2 separate regions of the Homo sapiens genome follow, and region 1 is linked to region 2. A link means that fine-mapping ties the variant in region 2 to the expression of a gene that starts in the linked region. Tissue or cell type: whole blood. Region 2 holds a variant in brackets; the other region holds the start of a gene. All regions are shown on one strand. Distances are between the middles of the regions.

Evidence for each region. PIP is the estimated chance that this variant, and not a neighbour inherited with it, causes the effect. A credible set is the group of variants that fine-mapping cannot tell apart.
Region 1: TG starts here. The variant in region 2 is the best candidate, but not a certain one, in a credible set for the expression of TG in whole blood (TOPMed, PIP 0.62).

The regions. Positions count from the first base shown.
Region 1 is chr8:132,864,502-132,869,501 of GRCh38, forward strand. It overlaps TG (thyroglobulin), which reads left to right and starts at 2,457. Exons shown (of 48, transcript NM_003235.5): 1 at 2,457-2,566; 2 at 3,614-3,722. The coding sequence starts at 2,500.
Region 2 is chr8:132,826,254-132,831,781 of GRCh38, forward strand. All of the region lies in intron 14 of PHF20L1 (PHD finger protein 20 like 1), which reads left to right. Among named protein-coding and RNA genes, the nearest start is that of TG, 38 kb to the right of the region's middle. The variant T/C (reference allele first, on the strand shown) is at 3,138.

The sequences.
Region 1 (5,000 bases), 38 kb after region 2:
TCCCCAGGGTGAATTGATCTTCCTGCCACGGCACCTCCTGAGCATCTGTTGGCTGAGTCTCCATCCCCACCCGTGAAAACAGCCTTGTGATGTGCTGTTTAATATCACAGAATGGAAACAGTGTTTTGATTCACCAGGATCCAAACACTCTTTTTGTAGAATCTACAAAGTGACATGGATGGCCATATTTTAGAGGACTGTTCCTGCAGCTGGTGGGGAAGCCCTGGTGAGGAGCAGTACAGCAGGCTGTTCTGGCTGGCTCGTTCTGAGCTGTAGGGATGTGACGGAGGCAGGAAGAGTGAGGATGCAGAGGAGGGGAGGACCAAGGAAGTAGAAATGAGCAGCAGCCTGGTAGGACCTGGAGGCTGGTAAGACTTGAGGGGAGAAGCCTAGGATGGGGCTCGGATTTACTATCACAGAGACAGCCAATGGGGTGATGTCAGGAGAAAGGTTGAGGAGTTCAGGTTGGGATATGTTGAATTTGAAATACCTGTAGGGTGTCCAGGCAGAGTGGATCTGAGCTCAAAAAAGTCTGGCTGGAGACTGAGCTAGAGAGAGATGTGGGAGTTCCAGGCATGTGTGGTCCCCAAGAAGGACGGGCAGAGCACGGGTTCTCCCCTGTTTTTAATCCCATACCCTGACACTTCAAATGACTGTTGTGTTTTACTTTCTCTAGTTTATATCAGGAACCCAACAATGATGACAGTAGCTGTTATGGACTGAATTGTGTTCTCCCCCCAAATCCATATGCTGAAGTCCTAAAACCAGGACCTCAGAATGTGACCGCATTTGAAGGTAGGGTCTTTAAAGAGGTAATTAAGTGCACAATGAGGTCACAAGGATGGGCTCTAATCCAATATGACTGGTGTACTTAAAAGAAATAAATATTAAGACACAAACACACACAGGGAAGACCAAGTGAGGATACAGGGAGGAGATGGCCATCTGCAAGCCCAGGAGAGGAGTCTCCAAAGAAACCAACAGTGCTGACACTTTGATCTTGGATTTCCAGCCTTCAGAACTATGAGAAAATAAATTTCTGTTACTTAAGCCACCCAGTCTGTGATAGTTTGTGATGACACCCATAGCAGACTAGTACAGTAGCTAACACTGGATACTTATTATGTGTCAAATACTGTTTTAAGCACTTTGCATATTTTAACACATTTAATATTCATAGCAACCCTATTTGTGGAAGGTAGTACAGTCTACGGCACGGCAGCTATATCGGCCCCTTTATTTTCCCCAGGGTTTGGAGTCTCTTCCACTTTCCAGCTTGTCCTCCTGCCCTTCACTCTACCCGGGACCATATCCTCCAGATTCTCACAGGTCCCTCCATCTCTCCTCAGGTGCCAGGCTCAGCAACCTGCCCTCATTACCTGCCAGTTCCTGACCCTATCTGTCACTAGCTCCTTACCTGGCTGGATTGGTCTTCTGAATACTTGCCATTCCCTGGCATGATGCTTTTGCAAAATAAGAAAATCAATAATAATAATAATAACTGCTAGTGTCTAATAAGCATGTGCTCTTCAATGTCTATTCTCTTACAACTACCTTAACAAATAGGGACATATTATTATTCTCCTTTTAACTTTGCTTTCCAGAGAAGGAGGCTGGGGCTCAGGGAGATGAGGTGAGTTTTTCCAGGTCTCACAGGAACAGGACTGAAGGAAGGAAGCCATGTTTGCCAGGAGAAACCAAATGGACATACAGGCTTTCTGTGGAATACACAGTTCCTGCTATCTTTTGGTTGACAAAGTCTGAGGTCCTAGGAAAGAGAGGAAAGTAATAGAAATATGAATATGAGTGTGTGTGTATTTTGCTTCCCTCACCAAAGTTTTCACAGTCTATATTAATGAGGGCACGATTTTGCCTGTTTTGTTCTCTGCCATATCCTCATTGTCTAGATTAGGTGCCTGCTACTGTGGAGCTCTAAGAGGTTGTTAGAGAAAGAATAGAAGAAAGAAAAGAAGGAAGGAAGGAAAGAAGGAAGAAAGAAAAGAAAGAGGGAAGGAAGGAAAGAAAGAAGGAAGAATGAAAGGAAAGAAGGATAGAAGGGAGAAAGGAAGGAAAGAAGAAAGAAAGGAAGAAAGGAAAGAAGGAAGGAGGAAGGAGAAGGAGAAAGGGTAGGGTGGGGAAGGAAAGAACAAAGGATTGCTTTTCCCTCACTGTGGGCTTGAGCCTGTTCCCTCCAAAGATACAGAGCTTTGGTCTTTACCCATAAAAAAGGATTTTGAAGTCACCCCACCCCGTTCTGTTCCCCCACAGTTTAGACAAGATCCTCATGCTCCACTGGCCACACGAGTGCCCTCAGGAGGAGTAGACACAGGTGGAGGGAGCTCCTTTTGACCAGCAGAGAAAACAGGATGGGGCACTGCCTCACTGAGGACCTGGGGGTGGGAAGGAAAGTGCCAACGGCAGCTCTATAAAAGCTCCCTGGCCAGGGGACCTAGGGCAAGCAGTGGTTTCTCCTCCTTCCTCCCAGGAAGGGCCAGGAAAATGGCCCTGGTCCTGGAGATCTTCACCCTGCTGGCCTCCATCTGCTGGGTGTCGGCCAATATCTTCGGTAAGTTCTGAGGCCATGGAGCCAGGCGGTGGGGAGGGAGCTCCAGTGTCAGCCAGGCTCTGCCCTGGGCCTTCGAACAGGTGCGATCTAATTTAATCTTCACAAATTCCCACATGTCAGTGATTTGCTTTTTTTTTTTCAGATGAAGAGGCAGATTTAGAGAGCCGAACTGAATTACTTGAGGTCACAGAGCTAGTGATTGATGGAGCAGAAATGGGAAATGTGGTTGATCTTCCTAATTCAATTCTAGGTCCTCCTCACCCCACCATTTTGGCAAACTTTTGGCATTGACCTTGGGTTTTTATCCCCTTAGCTATTCCAAAGTCTGTGTCATCCATAACAGGTATTTTAGAAGCAGTAGAAAAAGAAATCTACCTATGAAGTGAAATAGCCCTAAGTTCTGTCTTTGGCTCAGCCACTTACCCATATGACTTCGGGCAAAGTGCCAAGCTTCTGTTTTTTTTTTTTTTTTTTCATTTAAAAAGTAAACAAATAACACACACCTCATGATGCGGTTGTGATTTCTGGGTAGGACCCTATGTGTTACAAGAGTTCTCAATGGAAAAATAAGTCATGTACATTATTAATTAATTGGTATTTCAATGTTTATCTGGAACATGTTACATCTGCAGGGCATGGCTTGATAGATTCAAGAAGAACTTCCTTACGGTTCTCTAACTTACTCCAAATAGCCTCATGGGAATTGCGGCAGGGTGGGGGCGGGCGGGGAACGTGTAGTCCCAGCGTTGATTTTGGGATCCTTCACTTGCCAGTTACGTGACTTTGGGCAGACGACTTTCGCTGCCTGAGACTTGGTGCCTCATGAGTGACAAGGATATATTGCCTGTCACCTCTTAGGAGAATGTTGCACATTAAATGAGCTAATGTCATACTTGTAAGAAAGTGTGCTTAGCTGCCAAATTTTAAAATAGGCTGTCATAGGTAATGATGATGACCCTGGAAAAGCATCTGTGCTTATGAGAGCCCGTCTCTGTCCTGGCAGCCCAGTCCACACTCTTCTTTGATGAACCACTTTTCTTTTCCTAGAGTACCAGGTGGATGCCCAGCCCCTTCGTCCCTGTGAGCTGCAGAGGGAAACGGCCTTTCTGAAGCAAGCAGACTACGTGCCCCAGTGTGCAGAGGATGGCAGCTTCCAGTAAGGCTTATGTCAGCAGCGAACTCTCAAGGTCCAAGATGCCATAAAAAGCATCTTGTGCCTTCCCCCCTCTTCCTGAGCTCTGCCCTGCAACTCCTTTGTGCATGTGAGGCTTGGCCACTGTCATTTGGAGGTGCCTGCCTTTCAGTTCCACTGTCATTTGGAGGTGCCTGCCTTTCAGTTCCCCAAGCTGTTCAACACTGGACAATCTGACCAAGTGAACCCCAATCCATGCTTCATCCTCCCACTGCCCTCCCTTCTCTTCTTGCCATCACTTTTTCTGTGATGGCTTGAATAAACGGCACGTGTGGGGAGTGGGGCAGGTTGAGGAGAGTGTCAAATGATCTGTGCTTTGGGACCTCTCCCTCCTCCAAGTATCCTCTTGAGAAGCTGGGGTGGTGGAAGCAGAGGCTGCCTTGACTTCCTAGTCCTTAGCTGCCACCGACCCTGCCCGGACTAGCTCTCTAGGCTGCCTCTGGGCTTCTGGGTCGCTGTCTCCACATTGAGCTGCTCTCTGAAAGGGGTTTCTCCAGCTGCCCTAATGCAGACTTGGGGCCTGAGACCCTCTCTGTGGAGAGTGTGGTAATAATCTAGACAATTCTTCCCTGCAGAATAGACAGGAATCCTTTGCAATGTGCATGCATTGAAATTTCCTTGTGCTATTCCAGTCATGTTGAATCAGGGGAACTCCATTTATATAACTGCGTTCTGGGAAATGTCTGTGAAACCTCCCTCCCTGCTGCTATCTTATGTACACTCTTAATGTGCCTAACCTCCCACGAGTGTGCAGAGATGCTGCTAGAGCAGTCCCTGCTTAGATCACTGGGAATTCTGGAACAGCAAGGAAGGAGTTAAGGAGGAAGTCTCACTTTCACCAGCCTTATTTATATTCCCATTCCCAACTCTCTTGTTCTGGCCTCTTGCAGTTTCAAACCTGGCCTCTCTTCAGGAGGCTTTGCATATGCTGTTCCCTTTACCTGGAATATCTTTTACCTTCTTATACCTCTGACCATCCTGCAGGTCTCAGTTCAGTCATCATTTCTGGGGAGTCAACTCTATGGCCTGGCCTGACCCCACCCATGTGCTTCCCAATATACCCTGCTGGCCCCTGATCCCACTAACATCCCACCCCCAAGCCCCCACTCCCTATCCATACAATGTGGGCACTGCCTTTACCCTCTGCAGCCTCATAATGCCTGAGGACACTTGGTGGATGTGGCTGAAGCCCTGCACTCCAGGGTGGGTCACTTGTTTTGGGGCTGGCAGGCTGGACAGGTG
Region 2 (5,528 bases):
GTTTCAGACGTGCTGTATTGGCACAACTAACCAGATAGGTAATAGCAGATGCTGCTGAGGAAATGAAGGCAACTACACAACTACTGTGGGAAACAGATGGGGACCAGGGAGTAAGGTGACGATGTGTGCGCCAAGTGGCCTAAAAACCCGTGAGGAAACTCACACGGTGCATCAAATATGAGAGTGTTCACAGCAGCACTGGGAGCAGCCCAGCTCTCCATCAAAAGTCATGCATTCCTTCAGTGGAATAAATAAATGAATTACAGCTACAGAATCTCAGGAACAAAATGGTAAGCTAAAAACCAAGTAACTGAAGAAAACATAATATTTCACTTATATAAAGATAAAAAAGTTTTAAAACTAAACAGTGTATTTTTAAGAGATTCAACTGTGTGTGGGAAAAGCATAAAGAAAAACTAGAGAATGATGAACAAAAATTCAAGACAGTGGTTGCCTCTAAGGTGGGGAAGGGCCATTATCAGTTCAAACTGGAAAATGGTGCAAAGGGACCTTCAAAAATGATGATACTCTCTTAAACTGTATGATCAGTACCTAAGTGTTTTGTGCTATTGATATTCTTTGTGTCATACCCATTTTTTTCATATTTATTAGATATTTAATAAAACCAGTTTTAAAAAATACAAATCCAACCGGGCAGTTTTGTGGTTGGTAATCATTGTTGGTAAATTCTTCAGATTTTAGCTCTCTCCATAGTCCAAAAATAACATTTAATTTTCCCACAGAATGTGAAATTTTCACATTCTCGAATTCTAAAGCTGCCAGAGTAAATTTGAAGATACAGGATCAAAATGGGGTTCAAAGCTTGAAACGGCTTTCCAGAGAGTCTTGAACATTTCCGGGCACTTCTGTGTGTGCCTTGCGCCTCACTCCTTTCCCTCCTGCCCACCCCCCCATCACCTCTTCATATGTAACTGTGGAATTCAAGCTAGAAATGATGTAGAGGTAGGAAACTCCGGAGTTTGGTAAACAAAAACTATTCACTGTGAACTCATTTGATTACCGAATACCCTTCTGTGAGTGGTATGTCACAATACAGAAATGAGAAGCTCAGGCTGCAAATAAAACTTCCAGATGAACTCCCACCTGACCAAAGGCTCTGAGGGGATTTGCCTAGCTTAGGTGTTCCAATGGAGACCTGCATTGTCAGTGCAGGAATGGCCAGCTATTTCAGGGTTATCTTACGGCACAGCAACAAACTGTGTTCTGTTCTGATATTTAGTAGCAGACACAGAATCTTACATACAAAATACCTGTGAAAGTGGGGAAAAAGATAACAGCAGCTGATACAAAACAAAATAAGAAGGGGCCCACACTTGGTAGCAAAATATGAGGGCTAGAGCTTAAGAGAAGGCAGGAAATTGTAACTTGAGAGAAGGAGGAGCAATTAGGATTAATAGAGGAAAAATGGCCAAAAAAACCTCACCTTAGAATTGTGACCAGCCATTAACTATGGAACCCTTTACAAAGAGCCATTAAAACGTACTTTAAATGGTATATATTTTTATTTTTTAATGAAAAAGAAAACCTTATATATTTGTTTACATTTTGAAATCAGGCTTACAAATGAAAATCTTAACTTTGTAAATAGAGTCCTAGTAAGATGCACAGAAACATTGCTGTTTATAAACAGCAGGTGTTGAGTTTGATAATCACTGTCATCTTTGTAATTAATTGTTGCATTTGAGGAGAATTTATTCTGAGCTATTTACTTTATCTTAGAAATGGCACTTTTCCCCAGATGGTTAAATTAGAAGAGTGGTCTTTAAGTGGGAAATACAGGATTTGAAGTAACTTTGAAATTTTAAAGACATCTTAATGTTAAAGAATTGACATTATTACTGTATGAGGCTTCTAGTATGTTTTTTAGTCTACAGTTAGCACCATGAGGGAGTTTCAAAATTCTTTCTTTTATTTACCACTCAACATTATTTTATATATCCTGCTGGTACTTATGTACCCAAAACTAAGCATTTTATAAATATTATTACTTCATTTAATCCTCATATTAACCCTTTACAATAGGATCTGTTATCTACATTTTACCAACAGTTAACTGAGAGAGAGTGAGAAAGAGAGCTCTCCAGCTCTCATAGCTAGCTAGTGGTGAAAAGCAGATTCATTTCAAATCCAAGCAGTCTGACTTACAAGTCTGAATTTTTAACTCTAATCACCATGCTATGTTATTAATACCTGAAATACTGTTTATCAAACTGTGTATTCTTCTCTTCAACAAGTTTTTACTTGTTTTTATTGGCATACTAAGTTCTTGTCCCTGTTATTTTAATGCAGTTATGCAAAGTAATTTAGATTAGTTGTTTTTTATTATTTTATGAGGTAGTAGGTTAAGATATGTTTTGATTAACATAATTGGTTTACAAGACATAATACTAACATTGTGTTTAATTTGTGTGTATGAGAAGTCACCATGTTGGGATTTAAGAGTGTCATCTTTGCCAGTTTTTAGCTTTGTTACTTTGAGCAAATCACTTCATCTGTCTTTCATGTGTCTGTAAATATAAGGATACTGCAGGCATACAGAGATTAAAAAGAAATAGAGTTAGAAGTGAAAAGAGAATTGAAAGCATTGCATAGTAAAAAAGATTCCTTCGAGGAGCTTGTAAGTCATTGAAGTATATGGTAAGAGAGATAAGCATACATAAATCTCTACCAGGAAGGTCTGATATTTGTGGTAAGAGTGGTACAAAATAAATATTTAAGCTAGAAAAGTTGGTATGATCAAGGAAGGGACTTTATGTAGGAGACTACTTCTGATCTAAGCCTTGAAACATAACAGACTTTTATTCATAATAGCCAGAGGGAATTGAAGTGGGGAATACAGACAGGGTGCGGAATGCCAAGTTTTACCTATTAAATATCAGCCATGTTTTATTTTAGTACAAAATTGAGATTTCTTTCATTGTTTTTACAATCAGATTCTGCTTCTACTTTTACTTTTGCTGAAAGGACAATATATAATGGAGTTGATAAGAAGGCAGCCTTGAAGGTTTAGTATAGGTATTCAAATCCTGCCCGTAACACTTACAGCTAAGCGACCTTTGACAGGTTATTTAAATTCTCTACATCCCAGTTTCCTTTCTTCTAAAATAAATGGTAAT[T/C]GATAGTTTTATTGCATAGATTTATTATTCGAATTAAATAAAGTAATCATTGTAAAGTACTTGATACAGTACCTGGCATTTAATAAATGTCCTTTCCATGTCTGGGCCTAAGTAATATGGTGTTGGGCAAACTGTGGTTATGGTGAGGCCACTGGAGTCAGAATAGCGTAGTGCTGCCCAAAGACTGCTGTAATCTGACAGCATCAGCATCATCTGGGAGTGTTTCATTCCCAGTGCACTGGAGATGAGGCCCAGGAATCTGGGGTTTAACAAGCTTGCCAGCTTGTGCACCCTTTAAATGTTGAAATACACCGATATCACTTATTTGTTAAGAGTGTAGCTTCCATAGTCAGGCTGCCTGGGTTTGAATGTTGGCTTTGCTATTGATAGTTGTATATTCTTGGGCAATTTGCTTCATCTGTCTTGCCTCAATTCTTTACTAGCAGTCCTACTTCCCTCATTAGATGCTTGTGAGGATTAAAAGAGTTAATACACATAAAGAACTGAAAATTGCATTTGGCACATAGAGAGCCCTCAATCAGTGTTGGTTGTGCCGTGGTATTTATGATGATGAGTGTAAGTTTCCCATTGCTGCTGTTGCAAATTACTGCACATCAGTGGTTTAAAAAAATATGTATTTATTATCTTAAAGTTCTGGAGGTCAGGAGTCCAAAATGGGTCTCTCTAGGTTAAAACCAAGGTATCAACAGGGCTCCATTTTTCTCTGGAGGCTCTTAGGGACAGTCTGTTTTCTTGCCTCTTCTAGTTTCCAGAGGCTTCTGCATTGCTTGGCTCTTGTCCTGCTCCCATCTTCAAAGTCAGCAGTGGTCCAGTCTTTCTCATCTTGTTTCACTCTCACGTCATCTCTTCTGCCTCCATCCTTTCACTTTTAAGGACCCTTGCCATTACATTGGGCCCACCCATATGATCCAGGATACTCTCCCTGTTGTGAGGTCAGCCGATTAGCAACCTTAATTCCACTTTTCCACATAGCTTAGCTTATTTAAAAGTTCTAGGGTTTAGGACATAGACATTTTTGGCAGACTATTCTGTCTCCCACAGCTGCCACCTTCAAATGGATACTTAGCACAGACCAATGCGTCTCTTATAAGCTCACTTTTCCACTCTCTGTCTTTCCTTTTTCCCACTCGTTTCCATCTCTCATTTCCACCTCTCATGTATTCCCTAACCTGCGTCACTTGACATCCTTTTCCTCACAGAGTTGAGAAGACAGACATCATCAGGTGGGAACTTGCTCATACTCTATCTACCACATCTGCATGCTTACATGAAAATATTCATCATCTTAGCCTCTATTAAAATGGAGGGAATGTCTGCTTTTCTTAATCTAGCATTTCTCACCACTGCCATCCCCCTTTCCCACATCTTAAGGTTCATGTAGGTAATGTGTAAGATTTCCCATCTTACAGAGCCCTCTTCTAAACTTCTGTTTCTTCTCTGGTTTCTCCACCTTGCATTTACTCTTCAGCCCCATCTCATACCCACTTTTGTTGCCTTGTTGCTCACGCATAAACCTGGAAATCAATCTTGATAATGCCGTCTTAGCTCTCGGCCTCCAGTCTATAACAGCACTCCATCTTCCTTAAAATCTTCCCCTTATTTGCCATCACCCAAGTTCTGAGCCACCAACATTTCTTTCCTGGACTACTGCTGTAGCCTCTGAACTGTCCCCCCACTTCTATGTGTGCCTTCCTGCATTCCATCCTCCATTCCACAGCTAGAGTGATCCTCTGGAAATGAAACTGTCACATCTTGCTCCTCCTCCACATAAGCATTGAATGACTTTTTATTGCATTAGGGTAAAACTTTTTAAAAAAAGCTAATCTGGCTCCTGTCACTCTAGCTTTGTTTCTCCCTTATTCACTGTGTTCCAGCCAGTCTTACAGCTTGCCAAATGTGGCATGCACTCTTCAGCTTCAGAGCCTTCCCACATGCCTGGAATCACACCCCCACCTCCTTTTTTCCTTCCCTTACTATACCCTCAACTCTCCAGTAAGCTGCATATGGCCTCTCCCCTTGCACACATCTGTGGGACTCATTACAAAACTGAGAAAAACAGAATTTTTACAGAGTTCTTCCAGGACTAGTTAATTACCTTCAGAGATTTATTACTTGAAAAATTTATTGATCAGATTATCACTGTATAATTGGTGTGCCAGACATCAGGAGAACCTCTTTACGAATTGTGGGGAAGAAAAAAGGTGAATTTCCATCTTGCATATCTTTTTTTTTTCCTCTTCAACTTTTATTAGGTTGGTACAAAAGTACCTCAATTACTTTTGCACCAACCGAATAAGTTCTGGGGTACATGTACAGGATGTGCAGGTTTGTTACACAGGTAAATGTGTGCCATGGTGGTTTGCTGCACAG